Homo sapiens: one gene and its partner. The gene in region 1 interacts genetically with each later gene. Each region holds a gene or a part of one and is shown on either strand. Other genes may lie near its edges.

Region 1 (3,500 bases):
ACAGAGTTGCAAGATAGCTCCCATAGAATCAAAATCAAACAGCCAGGAAGGAAGGGTCTTTGTCCAGAGTCTAGATTCCAGACAATGCATAGTTTTCCACTGAAGTACAATGGGATCTCCCCCTACACTTCCATTTCCAAGTCCTATTTATGGACTGTCTAGCCCCAGAAAAGATGTGTTTTTCCCCAATCAGATGCTATAAAGCTGTCACTTCTCTTGTTTTTTATTGTTTATTCAGTTATAAAATGTCGAGGGGAAACTAGATAATCTCGATTCCCTTACGATTCCTTAATTCAAATTTCTTACTACTGCTTCCACCCAGTTCCCCGCTACATCCATAAATCATTCATCATTATTTAGCCATTCAGGTCCTTATCAGTGAGGTATAGCTAGTTTTAATTTGTGCTAAGGTGTTAATGGGCAATGTTTTATTAATATGATACTTCATCCTCAACATCTACTTCTACAACTTCAGTTACCATCTCAAACCATCACTCTCCTGAAAGTAGAACCAGATTCAGCTTTAAACACCTGCTGTCAAGAAGGCCCAGACATCTGTCAGCAAAGACCCTTGCCTGGTAAGACTGCCCTTCTCACCCCTGGCCCAGTCTTGGAGAGAGGATAACCACTGCTGGTAAACTGGGGGTGGAGATAAATGAAAATACAGAAGAGTAGCCAGCCACAGGGTCTTCTTGGATCCCAGCTGTGGGGCAGAGAGGAAATTTAACGCTTTAATTATTACACAACACTGGGCATCCTAATTATCAAATTGAGCCTATTATAACTTGAGATTTTATTATAGAATTAAAATTATTACCTGAACAAGACCAGAACAATTTGGGGTCCGATGGAGTTTTCATCTAAGTGTAAAGAAAGACTTCCCACCTCATTCATTCATTTATTCAACAGATGTCTGGGACTGTTTTAGGTGCTGTGGACATAGCAGTGATTATGACAGATAAAAAGTTCTGCTTCAAGTGCTTTATTTTTTTAAAGAGATGGGGTTTCACTCTGTTGCCCAGGCTGGTCTCAAACTCCTGGGCTCAAGTGATCCTCCCACCTCAGCCTCCCAAAGTGCTGGGATTACAGGCGCGAGCCACTGCACCCGGCCTAGTACAGAGGTTTTAAAGGAAAGCCTAGTCACTAAAAATAAAATTCTGGCCGGGTGTGGTGGCTCATGCCAAGCAGATGTTAGTGCCATGCTTGTACAGCCTACAGAACAGTGAGCCAAATAAACCCCTTTTCTTTATTAATTACCCAGCTTCAGGTACTCCTTTATGGCAATACAAAATGGACTCACACACATGCTATCGTATACTACTGCTATCATATACTATGCTATCATATACTATTACTTGTCAGCCCACACAATCCCACCTATGCTCTGGATTCTGGCCCTTCCATTCCCTCTAGGGCTAGGCACCACAAGTTATACCCTCCCTCTCTGCCAACAACATCATCATCTGCTCGCATTAGGGTACTAAAAGATTTCCCCCATCAAGATGGCCTTCATGCTCCCCTCAGCCTGACTGCACTTCAGACAGGCTTCTTCCTAACACGATTAGGCCATTCTTGTATTGCTATAAAGAAATATCTGAGTCTAGGTAATGTATAAAGAAAAGAGGTTTAATTGGCTCATGGTTCTGCAGGCTGTACAGGAAGCGTCACATAGGCATCTGCTTCTGGGGAGGCTTCAGGAAGCTTCCAGTCATGGCAGTAGGTGAAAAGGGAGCAAGCACCTCACATGGTAGGAGTAGGAACAAGGGGTGAGGAGAGTTGCCTCACACTTTTAAATGACCAGATCTTGTAAGAACTCACTATCTTGAGGATTGTACCAAGAGAATGGTACTAAATCATTCATGATAAATCTACTCCATGATCTAATCGCCTCCCACTAGGCCCCAACTCCAACACTGGAGATTACATTGCAACATGAGATTTGGGTGGGGACATCCAAACCACATCACCAATATTAGGCACCTGACTTCCCTTAGAGCATCAGAAAACTTAAAATTATAAATTATTTGAGTTCCCCTTTGAGACATACATCTTCCCTCAGCCTCTTGCCAGTTTTACAACCCAGGACTGTCTTTCTCAAGGACCCAGGGGAACCATTCTCTGAAATGTAACCTCAAAAGGAGATAGCACTCCTTTCTCCCACTTGCTGTGGGATGTGCCTAACTTTGGTGGGCACCTTGCTCCAAGCTGCAGGACTACTTCCTGTCATAAGGATGAGATGTTTACTCTTCCTTTGGATAAAGCCAATCAGCAAACACAGATGACCCATGACCCCCCCCCCCATCCTGGCCCTCACAGGATCCACATGGCTTCTTGTTCTCAGTACTTCTACACTCTCACACAGCCCTCAAAAACCCCACCACCCTCTGCTTCCAGGGAGGTGAGTTCAGACTTTCTTCTAGTCTCTTCTCTATTGTAAATAGCCCCTTTCCTTCTCTCACAAGAATCTTTTCAAGTTTAAGTCTCTCCTTACTTCATTCTCTTGGATTTTCCTTCACAGGAAGGGTTTCTTCAAATACGCCCTCCATTCCACTATACCTCCCATTCACTCCAAGACCTTCTAGAGTGTAACTCTGGGAATGTCTTCCTCCTGAGCATCCTTAAATCCTTTCTGGAACAAGGCATCAGTTTTGTAGCCAGAAAGATCCAGGTTGGAAAACCAATTCAGCTACTTACTAATGGGGCAATTTACCTTCTATAAGTCCCTGTTTCCAGCATTTGGGAAATAGGAATCCCTCCTTCTCAGGAACGGCAGCTATTTTATTAAGTCAGGAAACAAATGTATGGACTCAGATGGGCATGATATTCCCTACTTAAATGATAATGGCTCACATTTACTTAGTTCTTATTATGTGCAGGGCTCAGCATTTTACATGCATGATCTCATTTAATTCCTCATCACTATCCCATCATGTAGTTATTACTATCACCCCCATTTTATAAACAAGAAAACTGAGGCTGACAAAGAGAGGTCAAGTGACTTGTCCAATCTCACAACTAAGAAGTAGTGGAACTCATATTCGAAGCCAAATCTGTATGGAACTCAACTGCTCTGCATCACCTCCAAGGTAAAGGTTAAACTCGCTTGTGCCCCTCCCAACTCACGGACTCTGCCTCCCACTCATAACCACCCACTCATTCATGCCCCACTGCAATTGCTCATGCTGTTCTCTTCCACAGCATGAATGACTGCTTCCTCCTCACCCCGGTCCAACACACACATTTCAGCAGGTTAACATCAAGATGCAGCTTTAAAAATCCGTTTTCTATGGAGTTTTTGCTAATCCTTCCAGAGACCTTTCTTTATCTTCTCAGAGATCTTTGCATATATTCCCATATATGCTTCCATCATGTACCTTTATTATTATTATTATTATTATTTATTTTAGACAGAGTCTCCCTCTGTCTCCCAGGCTGGAGTGCAGTGGTGTGATCTCAGCTCACTGCAACCTCTGCCTCCCAGGTTTCAGTGATTCTCCTGC
Region 2 (3,500 bases), on another chromosome or scaffold:
CTGAACTCTCCAGTTGCAGTCCGGGAAATACTTTTTTCTAGGCAAGAAAGCAATAGCAATATGGTGGTATAAAACAGCAGCTTATTTTTCCCACTTGTTTTCCTGTTACTCTGTATTAAAGCCCTAAAGTTAAAAAAAAAAAATCTTAAAGTCCTACATTTAAAACCTGGCAGCATTTGGTGTTCTGTAGCTCATTAACTCTTCTCTGATTCTGTATTTCATAGACCATTGGTATTGCATAGTCACAGGGACCCAGAATTTCAGATGCCAGGTAAAGTGTGTTCTTTGTGAAGAAATCCATTTCTCTGTCCCCTGTTGAAGGCGTGATGAGAGGCTGGACCTACAGTGGAGTCTGGAGGGACATCAGCTGGGAGTGGTGTCTGTGGACATCAGCCACACCCTGCCCATTGCTGCATCCAGCTCTCTTGATGCTCATATTCGTCTTTGGGACTTGGAAAATGGCAAACAGATAAAGTCCATAGATGCAGGACCTGGTAAGAGTTTTACTTGTAGGGGAGATAATAGAGGTTCATGATTTCTTTTCCAAAATCTTTAGGGATAGAATGTGTTTTACAGCTCAGAATTTTTTGGATTTGAGAGGGGTGATAATGTGTGCATGAACTGTATTTCACATAATACCCTCAGTGGGGCTGGAAACAGCACTGTAATGAAAGACTAATACCTCTGCAAGTAAACATGAATGTTTACACTAAGGGAGATAAATAAAGGCTATAAATAGCCTTATGTCAATTCAGGTTAGATTTTGCTGCCAAATGAATTTTGGTAGTAAACCTGTAGAAAAAGCTTGTAGTTTCCAGAGCTTTTTGGATTTCAAAACTGCTGGTTTGGCGTTGACCTGTATTTTGCATTTTCCAGAGGTTCTTTATTTGCCATATTCTGAACTGATTCATTCACTGCCTTACGGAAACCTAGAATGTAAAGCATGGGGTCCTTATAGATCTGTATCATGGTCATCTCTACTAATTTTGATTAAAGGGTGTGATTCTTGGTATGTGATACATATGAAACTTTTAAGAAACATCAATTTTTTTTGTTTTAAGTACTGTAGAACAGCATAATCTTGTCCATCAGCCTCAGTAAACATCATCTGAGATGACAGAAATTAATGATGTCATAGGCTGACTAATGTGGAGCAGCAGAGGACATTTCAGGATTCTTTTGAACTTCACATTTACTTATAAATGGCTGCACAACATTCCCCAGCAGAACCTGCTCTGCCAGAATGGGTGGTAACTGCTAGAGGGTGCAGATAGCCTGGCATTTCTCTGGCACACCCCTTTTTGGGTTGATGATAGAAGAGCTGCTTAGGTGTTCCATGAACACAGTTCCCTTGATTGGTGCCCTGGATGGATTCGCCTCCCGCCAGTTATGCTCAGTAGCCACTCTAGGCTGTTCCTGTATTGGAAAGAATGATGGTCCCAGAGTTTTTAAAGAGGCTGGGTTGTCTGGAAACTGAGTGCATTTTCCCTCAGAAGCAATATTTCTTGTCTGTAATTCTTACCACTGGAGCTCTTTTAAGAATATGCCTGCCCAGTCCATATTTTGGATCCACTGAATCATAGTGTTCAGAGTACGTGGGGTGGGATATGTATTTGGAAAAAGCTACCCAGACGCACCCTGACTCCCCTGATGGTTGTCTTTACATGTACCCTTACCCTGCTTACATTACTTACAGAGGACTTGGGTCCCCAAACTATCCTGCAAAGTCTATTAAGACTCCAATATATAAGCATGGTCTTAAGAAAAGAGGAAGAGACAGAACTGTTTCTACCTTTTCATCTTGGGCGCCTAAGCTTTCCCTGGGCTCATAATGCTGGTGTTATTCCATGCTGGTTGTAGCCCTGGGCACAAGGCAGCTGAAGAAATCAGTGCTGGATTGGTTCCAAGTAAAAGGATGGCGTATGTATCTAGCTCACTTTCTCTGATAAACAGTACCTTTTACTGGATATTCTCCAAGTGTGGCAAAGTTTTAAAGGTTACTGTTATGAAAGAAAAAGAAGAGGCCAGGTGTGGTGGCTCACACCTGTAATCCCAACACTTTGTGGGGCTGAGGCGGGTGGATTACTTGAGGTCAGGAATTCAAGATCAGCCTGACCAATATGGTGAAACCCTGTCTCTACTAAAAAATACAAAAAATTAGCTGGACATGGTTGTGTGCACCTGTAGTCCCAGCTACTCAGGAAGCTGAGGCAAGAGAATAGCTTGAACTCGAGATTATGCCACCGTACTCCAGCCTAGGTGACAGAGCAAGACTCAATCTCAAAAAAAAAAAGGAAGAATGGGGTCTGAGAGTTGGATTTATTTTCTTTTTGGATAGGACTCTGCATAAAACTAGACCAGGCCATTAAACAGCCAACAGTTATTTGGTCCAGTAACAAAAGCAAGCATTGCTATTGACAGCTAAAGAGCAGCTAAATTCATCTGAAGGTAAAACTCCTTGGATGAATTTGGGTCTAATGAATGTAGGGAAAATAGACACTTAGTTTCTACCTATCTTGAAAATATGCATGGAGAATCTGAACCACCACACAGGAAGAGAAAAAGAGAAGAGAGACAATCCCCAGTCGTGGAGAAGTAAGGAAGTAGGAGGAAGCGAAGACCATGAGTGTACCAGTCTTTGTGTGGACATATGTTTTCATTAGGAGTAGAATTGCTGAGTATCATGGTAAGTGTTTGTTTTCACTTAAGAAACTGTCAAACTGGTTTTCAAAGTGGCTGTGCCGTTTTACATTCCCACCAGTGTATGAAGGCTCTGGTTTCTCCACATCCTTGCTAACACTTGATATTGTCCTATTTTAATTAAAAATTTAAGAAACCCTTAAACTAAATTTAAACTTGATAAAGAATTAGCATCTTTACAACATAATTTTCTGAATCAGGACACTGCTACTCCGATTTAAAAAGATGTATCCTTTGGTAAAACTTTAGTTTTTAAAATTAAGGCCAAGTCTTTTCACACTGTATTTTTGTCCTTCTTTTTTCTGTTCAGTGGATGCCTGGACTTTGGCCTTTTCTCCTGATTCCCAGTATCTGGCCACAGGAACTCATGTCGGGAAAGTGAACATTTTTGGTGTGGAAAGTGGGAAAAAGGAATATTCTTTGGACACGAGAGGAAAATTCATTCTTAGTATTGCATATGTAAGGAAACATTGCTCTCTGTTCTCCTTCTGATTCTTTCAGTTTACCCTTCCAGCCTGTTGCAGTCCTTGCCACAGATTCTGTCTTGGTCTGGTCAGGCAGCTGCTGTCTCACTGGTGTGGTTTGCCAAGTAGCCAGTTAGACCTGTAGATAGCAGGAGGTTTGCTTGTGTTTGGTAGGGACAGCTTAACAACACGGAGTCTGAAAGTGCTAATTTCTCCATATGTTCTCTGAACAGAGTCCTGATGGGAAATACCTAGCCAGTGGAGCCATAGATGGAATCATCAATATTTTTGATATTGCAACTGGAAAACTTCTGCATACCCTGGAAGGTATATATC

Evidence for each region. Genes that interact genetically often act in the same process or in processes that back each other up.
Region 2: changes in NDUFA9 (region 1) and SKIC8 together harm fitness more than expected from each alone (negative genetic interaction), as found in Homo sapiens cells (one large-scale study listed by BioGRID).

Annotation. Positions count from the first base shown.
Region 1 is NC_000012.12:4,690,614-4,694,113, reverse strand, and holds part of NDUFA9 (NADH dehydrogenase [ubiquinone] 1 alpha subcomplex subunit 9, mitochondrial precursor), read right to left. Parts: 3' UTR 1-3,500. UniProt on the Homo sapiens protein: Accessory subunit of the mitochondrial membrane respiratory chain NADH dehydrogenase (Complex I), that is believed not to be involved in catalysis. Required for proper complex I assembly.
Region 2 is NC_000015.10:78,289,610-78,293,109, reverse strand, and holds part of SKIC8 (superkiller complex protein 8), read left to right. Parts: intron 1-321; coding exon 322-494; intron 495-3,010; coding exon 3,011-3,159; intron 3,160-3,397; coding exon 3,398-3,491; intron 3,492-3,500. UniProt on the Homo sapiens protein: Component of the PAF1 complex (PAF1C) which has multiple functions during transcription by RNA polymerase II and is implicated in regulation of development and maintenance of embryonic stem cell pluripotency.